Homo sapiens: one gene and its partners. The protein of the gene in region 3 purifies or fractionates together with the protein of the main gene of each other region. This does not show direct contact. Each region holds a gene or a part of one and is shown on either strand. Other genes may lie near its edges. The genes, in order: INF2, GPBP1L1 and UHMK1.

The links.
Region 1: the proteins of UHMK1 (region 3) and INF2 purify together in Homo sapiens (affinity purification with mass spectrometry; one large-scale study listed by BioGRID and IntAct). This does not show direct contact.
Region 2: the proteins of UHMK1 (region 3) and GPBP1L1 purify together in Homo sapiens (affinity purification with mass spectrometry; one large-scale study listed by BioGRID and IntAct). This does not show direct contact.

The regions. Positions count from the first base shown.
Region 1 is NC_000014.9:104,703,033-104,706,683, reverse strand, and holds part of INF2 (inverted formin-2), read right to left. Parts: intron 3,580-3,651; coding exon 3,464-3,579; intron 3,390-3,463; coding exon 3,230-3,389; intron 2,769-3,229; coding exon 2,735-2,768; coding exon of another isoform or gene 2,731-2,734; exon of another isoform or gene 1,875-2,730; intron 650-1,874; coding exon 508-649; intron 1-507.
Region 2 is NC_000001.11:45,631,013-45,634,663, reverse strand, and holds part of GPBP1L1 (vasculin-like protein 1), read left to right. Parts: intron 1-427; coding exon 428-568; intron 569-988; coding exon of another isoform or gene 989-1,016; coding exon 1,017-1,175; intron 1,176-3,651. UniProt on the Homo sapiens protein: Possible transcription factor.
Region 3 is NC_000001.11:162,504,291-162,507,941, forward strand, and holds part of UHMK1 (serine/threonine-protein kinase Kist), read left to right. Parts: intron 1-3,651. UniProt on the Homo sapiens protein: Upon serum stimulation, phosphorylates CDKN1B/p27Kip1, thus controlling CDKN1B subcellular location and cell cycle progression in G1 phase. May be involved in trafficking and/or processing of RNA.

The DNA of each region.
Region 1 (3,651 bases), on a different chromosome or scaffold from region 3:
ACCCCCTGCCCAGCCGTGGCAGCCAAAAATGTCTTCAGATGTTGCCAGATGCCACCTGGGGACACAACTGCCCCCAGATGAGAGCTGCAAGGTTCAGGGAATGAGGGGAAGGCCTGAGCTTGACGAGAATTCAGCCTCTTAGCCCCTCACCAAGCCCTGAGGCCTCTGAAGCCCACCTGATGGGGACTGGGCAGCTGGGGCCCAGGACAGTAAGGCCGGCTGTGGGCCGCACTGGTCTTTGGAGCCCCGTCCTTCTGGGTCCTGTGGCCCTGGCTTTGCCCCCAGGGCCCAGCCCGGCCCCCAGGCTGCCCGCTCTAGGCGCCACCTCCCTTTCCAACCCCTGGGTCCTTGCTGCTCCCTGGAGTCTCACCCCAAAGCTGGCACCATGGCCCAGGTCACAGCAGGGTCTGACCAGGGCAGGGAGGACCGTTCCAGGCCCAGCCTCTGGACCTCAGGGCCACAGCCTGCCCTGGAGGGCTGCCCTCCGCCCTGCAGCCCCCAGCCCACCTTGTGGAACAGGGAGGCAAAGACCTCCTGGTGGCTGCTCATGTCGACCCCGCCAGAGACTCGCAGCAGCTCCTCCTCGTCCTCGGCCTTAGCCTCCTCGAAAGCCTCCAGCTGGATCAGCAGGTCGGCATCCTCCAGGTCTCTGTGCAGGAGGGGCCAGGTGGGCTAAGCCTGCTGCTGCCACCACCAACACGCAGGCGGGGCAGCCTGGGTCAGCGCCAGTGTACCAGCCCCGCTCAGCCCACCTGGGACTCTGAGCCAGGCCATAGCCAGCTGTGGCTGACATGTGACCCACATAGCCAGGGATAGCGACCTAAGAGTGGCAGCTCCCAGGTCAGTGCCTTGCGCCCTGCCAGGCTGCCCCCGGGTCACCAGGCACCCGCACGCCCCTGGGGAAGGGGAAGGGCGAGTATGCCCACTCCCATCGAGTAACGTGCACCAAGGCCTGGGGAGGTGGCACACAATGGAACCGGGCCGTGACCTTGGGGGAGGGAAGGCCCTCCCCTGGGCGCTGCGTGACTACAGTGAAGACCACACCTGAGGTGGGTCCACAGGGCTGCATGGATACAGGAGGGGCGGGGCTCTGGCCTGAGCAGGAGGAAACTTAGTGTTCACTGGGCCTAGGACTTGCCAGTCATCTCAGTCTGGTCAATGAGCACAGCCCTCCGCAGGCAGGGCCGGCCCCCTTCAGCCCACACTGGTGGGGCACAGGCACCCATGTGGGCAAACTTTGCTGAGGCCATTTCTGTTTTTTTTTTTTGAGATGGAGTCTCGCTCTGTCACCCATGCTGGAGTGCAGTGGTACGATCTCAGCTCACTACAACTTCTACCTCCTGGGATCCAATGATTGTCCTGCCTCAGCCTCCTGAGTAGTTGGGATTGCAGGCACATGCCACCACGGCCAGCTAATTTTTGTACTTTTAGTAGAGATGGGGTTTCACCATGTTGGCCAAGCTGGTCTCGAACTCCTGACCTCAGGTGATCTGCCCATCTTGGCCTCCCAAAGTGCTGGAATTACAGGCGTGAGCCACCGCGCCTGGCCCCTGAGGCCATTTCAACACCAGGCATTCTAGCCCTGGGCTCCTCCAAGCTGATTTCCCTGGGTGTAAGGACACCCCCCTGAGTACAGTCCTGACTGAGGCCTGGATAGAGCTTCTCAGCTATGTGGGTTCCCAGCAGGGCTGCAAGATTTAGCAAATGAAACTACAGAGTACCTGTTCAATTTGAATTTCAGACAAACAATGAATAACTTTTGGCATAAGTATATCCCATGCAACATCTGGGATATACTTACACCAAAATATCGTCTGTTGTGTATCTGAAACCTGAATGAACTGCATGTCCCATACAGTACCTGGCAACCCTAGTTTCTTTTTTAAAAAATTTTTATTTTAGACTCGGGGGTACATGTGCGTGTTTGCCACATGGTACACTGTGTAACGTAGGCGATTTGCCTTCTAGGGCAGTGGTCCCCAGCCTTTTTGGCACCAGGGACTGGTTTTGTGGAAGACAATTTTTCCATAGACTGGGGTGACGGGAATGGTTTAGGGATAAAACTGTTCCACCCCCGATCATCAGGCATTAGATTGTCATGAGGAGCGCGCAGCCTGGATCCCTTGCGCGCGTGCGTGCGCTGGAGAATCTAATGCAGTGCTGATCTGACATGAGGTGCAGCTCAGGCAGGAATGCCCGCCCACCGCTCACTTCCTGCTGCGTGGCCCGGTTCCAATAGGCCAGGTACCGGTCCGCAGCCTGGCGGTTGGGGACCCTTGTTCTAGTGGGCCTGACACCAAGTAGCGACGAACACTGTACCCTGTAGGTAGTTTTTCAACTCTCGCCCTGGAGCCCGTGTCCCTGTCTCCATCTTGCGTCCACGTGAACCACCCTGTAGTTCCCTCTTATTGGCATTTCATTTTCTGTTTCTGGGTTGGTTCACTTAGGATCACGGCCTCCAGCTCCATCCACGGTGTGCAAAGGATATGAGCTCATTCTGTCCTTTCTATGGCTGCTGCAACCCTAGTTTCTGTGGGCAGCTGCCAGGGACAGTGAGCTGGATTCTAGCCTGAGACCTGGCTTCTGGCTGGACCCCTGGGGTTACTCCGAGGGAGCCACCTCCCTGCCATCTGGAGGTGCTGCTTAGGTGAGGTGGCTGGGAGCCAAAGGGCAGGTGGGCCTGGCCTTGGGAGCAGGAGGGGGAGCCGGCAGGACCGCTACAGTGGGGACTCACCGCAGGCGAGCCAGGACGTCCAGCAGCTGCAGCCCTGGGAAGGGACGGACAGGGTCAGAGGGTTCGGAGGCCACTCCCCGCCTTCCCCATTTCACTTCTGCCACCCAGAGCACCTGACCCTGCCCTGCTGCACTCATGGGACACCAGAGACCTGAGGCTCTGGAGGGGAGACATCATGCTGGACACACAGTGATGCTTACTCAGGGCTCACTGCCAGAACTGGCAGGGCTAGAACGAGGTCTCAGGCCCCCTGTCCGGCTCCACTGCCTGGCCAGTCTCACAAATGAGAACGGTCCAGGGTTGACCCCCAGGCGTTCTGAGGCCTGTGTCCATTGAAGGGGCAGGTGGTGGCAGGCCCGAGATGGCGCCTTCCTCTGGGGCCCTGGGTCGGGGGCAGCTTTTGTGGCGCTCCCACCTCCCCAGGTGGATGCAGCATGGGATGCACTGGCCAAGAGGCGGGCAGGAGCGGGCATGCGGCCCAGGGCAGGTGCTTACCGATAAACTCGTTCCGCAGCTGGGTGCGCGCGCGCAGGTCCTCGGGGCCCAAGATGACGGCGTTGATCACGCTAAGCAGGGTGACCACGTAGGGCACGTTGTCGCTGCCGGAGAGCTCGTTCATGACAATGCTGAAGCGGTACTGCTGGCTGCACACCGTCTGTGGGGAGGGCGGGGTCAGGGCACACCCAGGCAGGGAGCCCCATGTGCCCAGGCCCAGGCCCTGCCGCCCACCTTGTAGTGGTCCAGGGCGTCCAGGGTCAGCACGTGGCCCTCGGGAGAGTAGATGCACAGGGCAGCCAGTAGCTCAAACACCTGCTTCTTCACCATCACGTTGGATGTGTCCAGGGCTGCCAGGGTGGAGTGGGCAGGCTCAGCAGGGCCAATGCACCCCTTCCCATGCCTGTGCAGCTGGGCTCAGG
Region 2 (3,651 bases), about 120 Mb from region 3:
AGGATTACATCCAAAGTTAACAAACACTACTAAAAAAAGTTTTGGGATTCAATAAATTAGGAAAATGCTGCATAACTGCCTCTCAAATTCTTATGTGCAGTTAAGTGCTTTGAGAAATTGCACAGTGAAGAACCTTGTTGAACTTTTTTCACCCCGGCACCTCCCAAACTCATTGAACTATTGAACTAGAGCCCTGTTTTTGGGAAGTCACTATTAATGTCCAATGGCTCTTCTGTATCCCATCTACCATTTTCCTTGAAGTGCCTAACCTCCGAAAGAGGTTGCATACTTCCCAAACATGTTAAGACAGGTAAGCCCTGGAAACTTATGTTCTCATGTAACATTTCACTCTTTGCTTTATGATTTTATAAGCTGAGCTTCTGTTTGTGTGCTTGTTCTGACTGATTTGTTCTTTCACCCTGTGTAGCCTAATGCATGGAAAGCTAACAGGATGGAGCACAAGTCAGGATCCCTTTCCTCTAGCCGGGAGTCTGCTTTTACCAGTCCAATCTCTGTTACCAAACCAGTGGTACTGGCTAGTGGTGCAGCTCTGAGTTCTCCCAAAGAGGTGAGTGAGGATGAAGCAGGACAGTCTTTTCTGAAATTGCCATTTCCCGTTCACTTAGATAACAAGTGTAATATGTATAGCTGTGACACTTGTTTTGTAGCTATATTTAGCTGAGAATAGTTTCTTTATTGATGTTTTCTGTTAGCATCCAAAAGTGGGCAGTGGCTAAATGGGATAGATGCTCTGTGGTGGACCAAGGTCATCCTATGTTAGACTGGCATTCTGCTGATGTCTGTAGAAAGATCAAAGAGGTGCCATGTAAGCCAGCTGCTCTTAACTATATAAACCCTGCAAAACTGAAGTTTGAACTGCTTAAATAAAAGGATTGTTTGGTTTAAGACAGAGTGATAAATAGGCTACCAGATTCTTGAAGTCAGCACTTAGTAGAAGAGAACCCCAGTTCTTGCTCTTTGCTGTCAGGAGCAACCTGTTTGTGGTATTTGCCCAGAGTCCCTCCAGCACCACCCCTCCAATTGAGATCAGCTCCTCTCGTCTGACCAAGTTGACCCGCCGAACCACCGACAGGAAGAGTGAGTTCCTGAAAACTCTGAAGGATGACCGGAATGGAGACTTCTCAGAGAATAGAGACTGTGACAAGCTGGAAGATGTAAGAGCATCCGCCTTTTCTGGGGGTAGCCTAGGAATTTTCCTTTGATACATACGTGATTTCTTCTTCTTAAAGGATAAAGATGTGGCAAGATTTTTAAATGTACAGAGATACTGTCTGTAGGTGTAACTGCCTTCTAGACCACATAGTAAAGTGAGTTTAATCCTTTTTTCAGCAAAAATGTTAAATTCGGGTTTATTTTAGTAATCACTCACCTATTGAAGTACATCTTGGTTGCTTCCAAGTGTTGGCAACTATGAATAAAACTGCAGTAAACATCCATGTGCAGGTTTTTGTGCTGGCATAAGTTCAACTCCTTTGGGTAAATACCAAGGAGCGCAATTGCTGGATCATATGGTAAGAGCATGTTTAGCTTGTCAGGAAACCACCAAACTGTCTTCCAAAGTGGTTGTGCCATTTTGCATTCCCACCAGCAATAAATGAGAATTTCTGTTGCTACACCTCCTCACCAGTATTCGATATTATCAGTGTTCTGGATTTTGGCCCTCCTGATAGGTGTGTAGTTTTAATTTGCACTTCCATGATGACATATCATGTGGAGCATCCATCTATGTATCTTCTTTGTTGATGTGTTTGTTCAGGTCCCTTACCCATTTTTTAATGAGGTTGTCTGTTTTCTTATTGCTAAGTTTTAAGAGTTCTTAGAGTTCTTTGTATATCTTAGTTAATAGTCCTTTATTAGATGTGTCTTTGACTACAGTTTCTCCAAGTCTGTGATTTGACTCTTCATTCTTTCTTATTTATTTATTTTGAGACAGAGTCTGGCTCTTATCACCCAGACTGGAGTGCAGTGGCACGATCTGGGCTCATTGCAACCTCCGCTTCCCGGGTTCAAGCGATTCTCCTGCCTCAGCTTCCTGAGTAGCTGGGATTACAGGCACCCGCCACCACGCCCAGCTAATTTTTGTATTCTTAGTAGAGATGGAGTTTCGTCATGTTGGCCAGGCTGGTCTTGAACTCCTGGCCTCAAGTGTTCTGCCTGTCTCAGCCTCCCAAAGTGCTAGGATTAAAGGCATAAGCCACCACATGTGGCCATATTTATTTATTTGTATTACTTTATTTTTTGAGATGGAGTTTCACTCTGTTGCCCAGGCTGGAGTGCAATGGAGCAATCTCAGCTTACTGCAACCACCGCCTTCCAGGTTCAAGCAGTTCTCCTGCCTCAGCCTCCCAAGTAGCTGGGATTACAGGCATGTGCCACCACATGACACACGTTATTTAGCTTCTTAGCTCTGGCCAGAGGACCAGGAAACTACAGTGCAGAACAAGAGGCAGAGGAAGGCCAACCTGCTTCCTTGAAGACCAAGAGCTCAGACCATAACTCTGGAACACAGCCTTGTGGTTCTGATAAGGAATTAGACCTGTGAGGATGAAAGAGTATACTATTTTCTGGAATTTTTTTTGTATGTAGTAGAGACAAGGTTTCACCATGTTGGTCAGGCTGGTCTCGGATTCCAGACCTCAGGTAATCCACCCACCTCAGCCTCCCAAAATGCTGGGATTACAGGCATGAGCTGCCATGCCCAGCCGGCCATATTTGTTTTTGAGACAGTGTCTCACTCTGTCGCCCAGGCTGAATGCAGTGGCATTAATGATCACAGTTCACTGCAGCCTCGACCTCCCCTCCTCAAGCTATGCCTCAGCCTCAGCCTCCCGAGTAGCTGGGACTATAGGCTTGTGCCACCATGCCTGGCTAATATTTTGTTTGGTACAGAGATAGCTTCTTGCTATGTTGCTCAGGCTGGTGTTAAACTCCTAGACTCAAGCAGTCCTCCCACCTTTGGCCTCCGAAAGTGCTAGGATTACAGGTGTGAGCAACTACACTGTCTTTTAATTCTCTTGACAGAGTGTTTTGCAAAGCAGAAATTTTTTTTATTTTAATGAAATCCAGCCTAATTAATTGTAGGCCAGTCACGGTGGCTCAAACCTATAATCCCAACACTTTGGTTGGCTGAGGTGGGCGGATCACCTGAGGTCAGGAGTTTGAGACCAGCCTGGCCAACCTGGCGAAACCCCGTTCCTACTAAAAACAGAAAAATTAGCCGGGCATGGTAGCATGCACCCATAGTCACAGCTACATGGGAGGCTGAGGCATGAGAATCACTTGAACATGGGAGGCGGGGGTTGCAGTGAGCCGAGATCGCGCCACTGCACTCCAGCCTGAGCAACAGAGTGAGACTTGATCTCCAAAAATAAGTAAGTAAATAAACAAATAAATAAATAAATAAATGTCATACCCAAGGTAATCTAAGTTTTCTTTTATGTTATCCTTATAGGAGTTTTATAGTTTTGTGTTTTACATTTAGGTCTGTGACCCATTTTGACTTTATTTTTGTGACGGCTGTAAGGTCTTTGTTTAGATTGATTTTTTTTTTTTTAGTGTGGCTGTCCAATTGTTCCCTCACCATTTGTTGAAAAGACTATCTTTTCTCCATTGTATTTCCTTTGTCAAAGA
Region 3 (3,651 bases):
GAATAGATCCGAAAACAATAGATATTTTGAAAATACAAATGTGTACAGTCGTGTCATTTAACAGTAGGGATCTGTTGTGAGAAATATGTCATTAGGTGATTTTGCCATGCTGACATCATATAGTACTTACATAAATGTAAATGATACAGACTTCTGCCCACACCTAGGCTATATTGCACAGTCTATTGCTCTTAGGCTACAACCTATATAGCGTGTTACTGTACCAAATACTATAGACAGTTGTAATACAATGGTAAGTATTGTGTCTAAACATAGAAAAGATACAGTAAAAATACAGTATAAAAGATTAAAAATGGTATACCTTATAGGGCACTTTACCATGAATAGAGCTTGCAGGACTGGAGTTGCTCTGGGTAATTCAGTGAGTGAGTGGTGAGTGAATGTGAGGGCCTAGGACATTACTGTACACTATAAGACTAAGGGTAAACACTGTATACTTTGCCTACACTAAATTTATTTTAAAATTTTTTCTCCTTTTTTTGAGACAGAGTCACACTCCATCACCCAAGCTGGAGTGCAGTGGCACAATCTTGGCTCACTGCAACCTCTGCCTCCCAGATTCAAGCGATTCTTGTGCCTCAGCCTCTTGAGTAGCTGGAATTACAGGTGCATGCCACCATGCCCGGCTAATTTTTGTATTTTTAGTAGAGACGGGGTTTCACCATGTTGGCTAGGTTGGTCTCGAACTCCTGACCTCAAGTGATCTGTCTGCCTCAGCCTCCCAAAGTGCTGGGATTACAGGTGTGTGCCACCGCTTCTGGCCAAAATTTTTTTTCTTCTATAATAAATTAGCTTAACTGTAACTTTTTTACTTTATAAACTTTAATTTTTCTTTATCTTATTTACTTTTAAAATTTTTTGTTAAAAACTGAGACACAAGCACACCTTAGCCTAGACCTACACAGGGTCAGGATCATCAATATCATTGTCTTCCACTTCCACATATTGTCTTACTGGAATGTCTGCAGGGGCAGTAACATGCATAGAGCTGTCATCTCCTATGTTAACAATGCCTTCTTTTGGAATACCTCACAAAGGACCTGCCTGAGACTATTTTACAGTCAACTTTTTGGGGGAGGGCGATGTACTTTAAAGTAGGAATAAAAAAATATATAGTTATAAATACATAAGCCAGTAACACAGCTATGTATTGTCATTATCAAGTACAGTAGTTTTGTTTACATCTATGTCCTACCGCAACACCTGCATTACCTGCATTACCACAAGCATGTGAGTGATGTGTTGCGATAGGACATTATGATAGCTACGATGTCGCTAGGCGATAGGAATTTTTCAGCTCAGTATTATTTTATGAGATCGCTGTCATATATGTGGTCCATTGTTGACCAAAACGTCATTGTGCAGTATATGACTGTATTATTAAATAGTAGGTTTTTCAGATTTCTAGACTATGGACTGGAAGTGAATAAAATAATTAGTATGCTAGAAAAGTATGGATCCCTTGTCTGAGTTAGAGTAGTATAGTTTCCTTTGAATATTGGCCCTATAAACCTTTAAGTTAGTTTTATTAACTCTTTACTTTGAAATAGTTACAGACTCACAGGACTTTGCAAAAATGTTACAGAGAGGTCCCTACCATTTACCCAGTTTCCCCCAGTGGTAACTTTTTACATAACTGTAGTATATACAGTATCAAAACCAGTAAATTGAAATAGGTATAATCCACATGATTTATTCCTATTTCACCAGTTTTACGCATACTTACTTGTGTGTGTTTTTCAAATTAGTTTTAAATAGCTGTTAGTATCTGATTGATATGAGATATTATAAATTGCATTTTACATTGAAGAGATGGGAATGAAAAATTATAAAATGGATTCTAGCCTGGAAGTTAAATTTTCATCTAAGTTCTAGTATTGACTTTCTTATTTTTATTTTTTTTAAATAATAGCCCCCCCCCCCCCACCATTTTACATAGAATACTAAATTTGGAAACTATAGAAAGTCATCATGAGGAAAATAAAAATTATAAACCCACATTCTAGTGTTAGCACTTTGGTATATTTCCTTCCACTATTTTTCTGCATATTGCATTATATATGCATGCAAGTCGCTGAACCTTTTTTGTTGCTGTTGTTGAATAAAGCACAGACACTAAAAACACTAATTAAACAAATGTGTAGCTTAATCTGTAGGAACATTGTACCCATCTTGTAACTACCATTCACACCAAGAAATAAAACTTTTCCTGTCACCCTGGAAGTCCTGTATGTGTCTCATCCCAATCTCATACATTTTTGTTTCCTTGAGTGTCCTATATATTACTGCATGTGTTTCTGTTGAAAGTTTGATGACTCAGTAATTGCCTTTTCATTAAAAGTCGCTTGGTCTTCCAGCCTGGCCAAGGTGGTGAAACCCCGTCTCTACTAAAAATACAAAAAAAGTAGCCGGGCCTGGTGGCACGTGCCTATAATCCTAGCTACTCAGGAGGCTGAGGCAGAGAATTGCTTGAACCTGGGAGGTGGAGGTTGCAGTGAGCTAAGATCGTGCCACTGCAATTCAGCCTGGGCTACAGAGGGAGACTCTGTCTCAAGAAAAAAAAAAGAGTCACTTGGTCTTCTTGTCTAGATGCCCAGAGGATTTTAACTTTTTCTTCCATGTATAGTAATTTTATCAAAATATATTTTGATTTTGATTGTTCTGGGTCAATATTCTCAGAAATACGGTATGTCTCTTAAATTACAGTTTTTAAATATTTTTTCTGTTCTTTTTGGTTTTCACTTTCATGTCCTCCTCGTCTACATACGTTTGATTTTCTTTGCCTTATATTCAATGTTGCCATTTTTTCCTTTCTTTTTTTTTTTTGAGACGGAGTTTTTGCTCGTTGCCCAGGTTGGAGTACAGTGGCATGATCTCGGCTCACTGCAACCTCTGTCCCCTGGGTTCAAGCAATTCTCCCACATCAGCCTCCCAAGTAGCTAGGATTACAGGCTACTGCCACCATGCCTGGCTAATTTCTATATTTTTAGTAGAGACAGGGTTTCACCATATTGGCCAGGCTGGTCTTGAACTCCTGATCTCGTGATCCGCCTGCCTTGGCCTCCGAAAGTGCTGGGATTACAGGCGTGAGCCACAACGCCCAGCTGCCATTTTATCTTGATTCTATATTATCTCTTTTTCCTTTCTTTTTTTAAGAGACGAGGTCCCACCATGTGCCAGGCTGGTCTTGAACTCAAGTGACCTTCCAGCCTCAGTTTCCCAAAATGCTGGGATTACAGGCATAAGCCACCACCCCCAACCCATTCTTTCTTTTTTTTTTTCTTTTTTTTTGTGATACGGAGTCTCACTCTGTCGCCCAGGCTGAAGTGCAGTGGCGTGATCTCGGCTCACTGCAAGCTCCGCCTCCCGGGTTCACGCCATTCTCCTACCTCAGCCTCCCGAGTAGCTGGGACTACAGGCACCCGCTACCACACCCAGCTAATTTTGTGTATTTTTAGTAGAGACAGGGTTTCACCATGTTAGTCAGGATGGTCTCGATCTCCTGAACTCGTGATCCGCCTGCTTCGGCCTCCCCAAATGTTGTGATTACAGGCATGAGCCACCGTGCCCCGCCTCTTTTTTATTTTTAAAAATATCCTCCTTTTTGCCTACTCTTTAAGACATTATTTG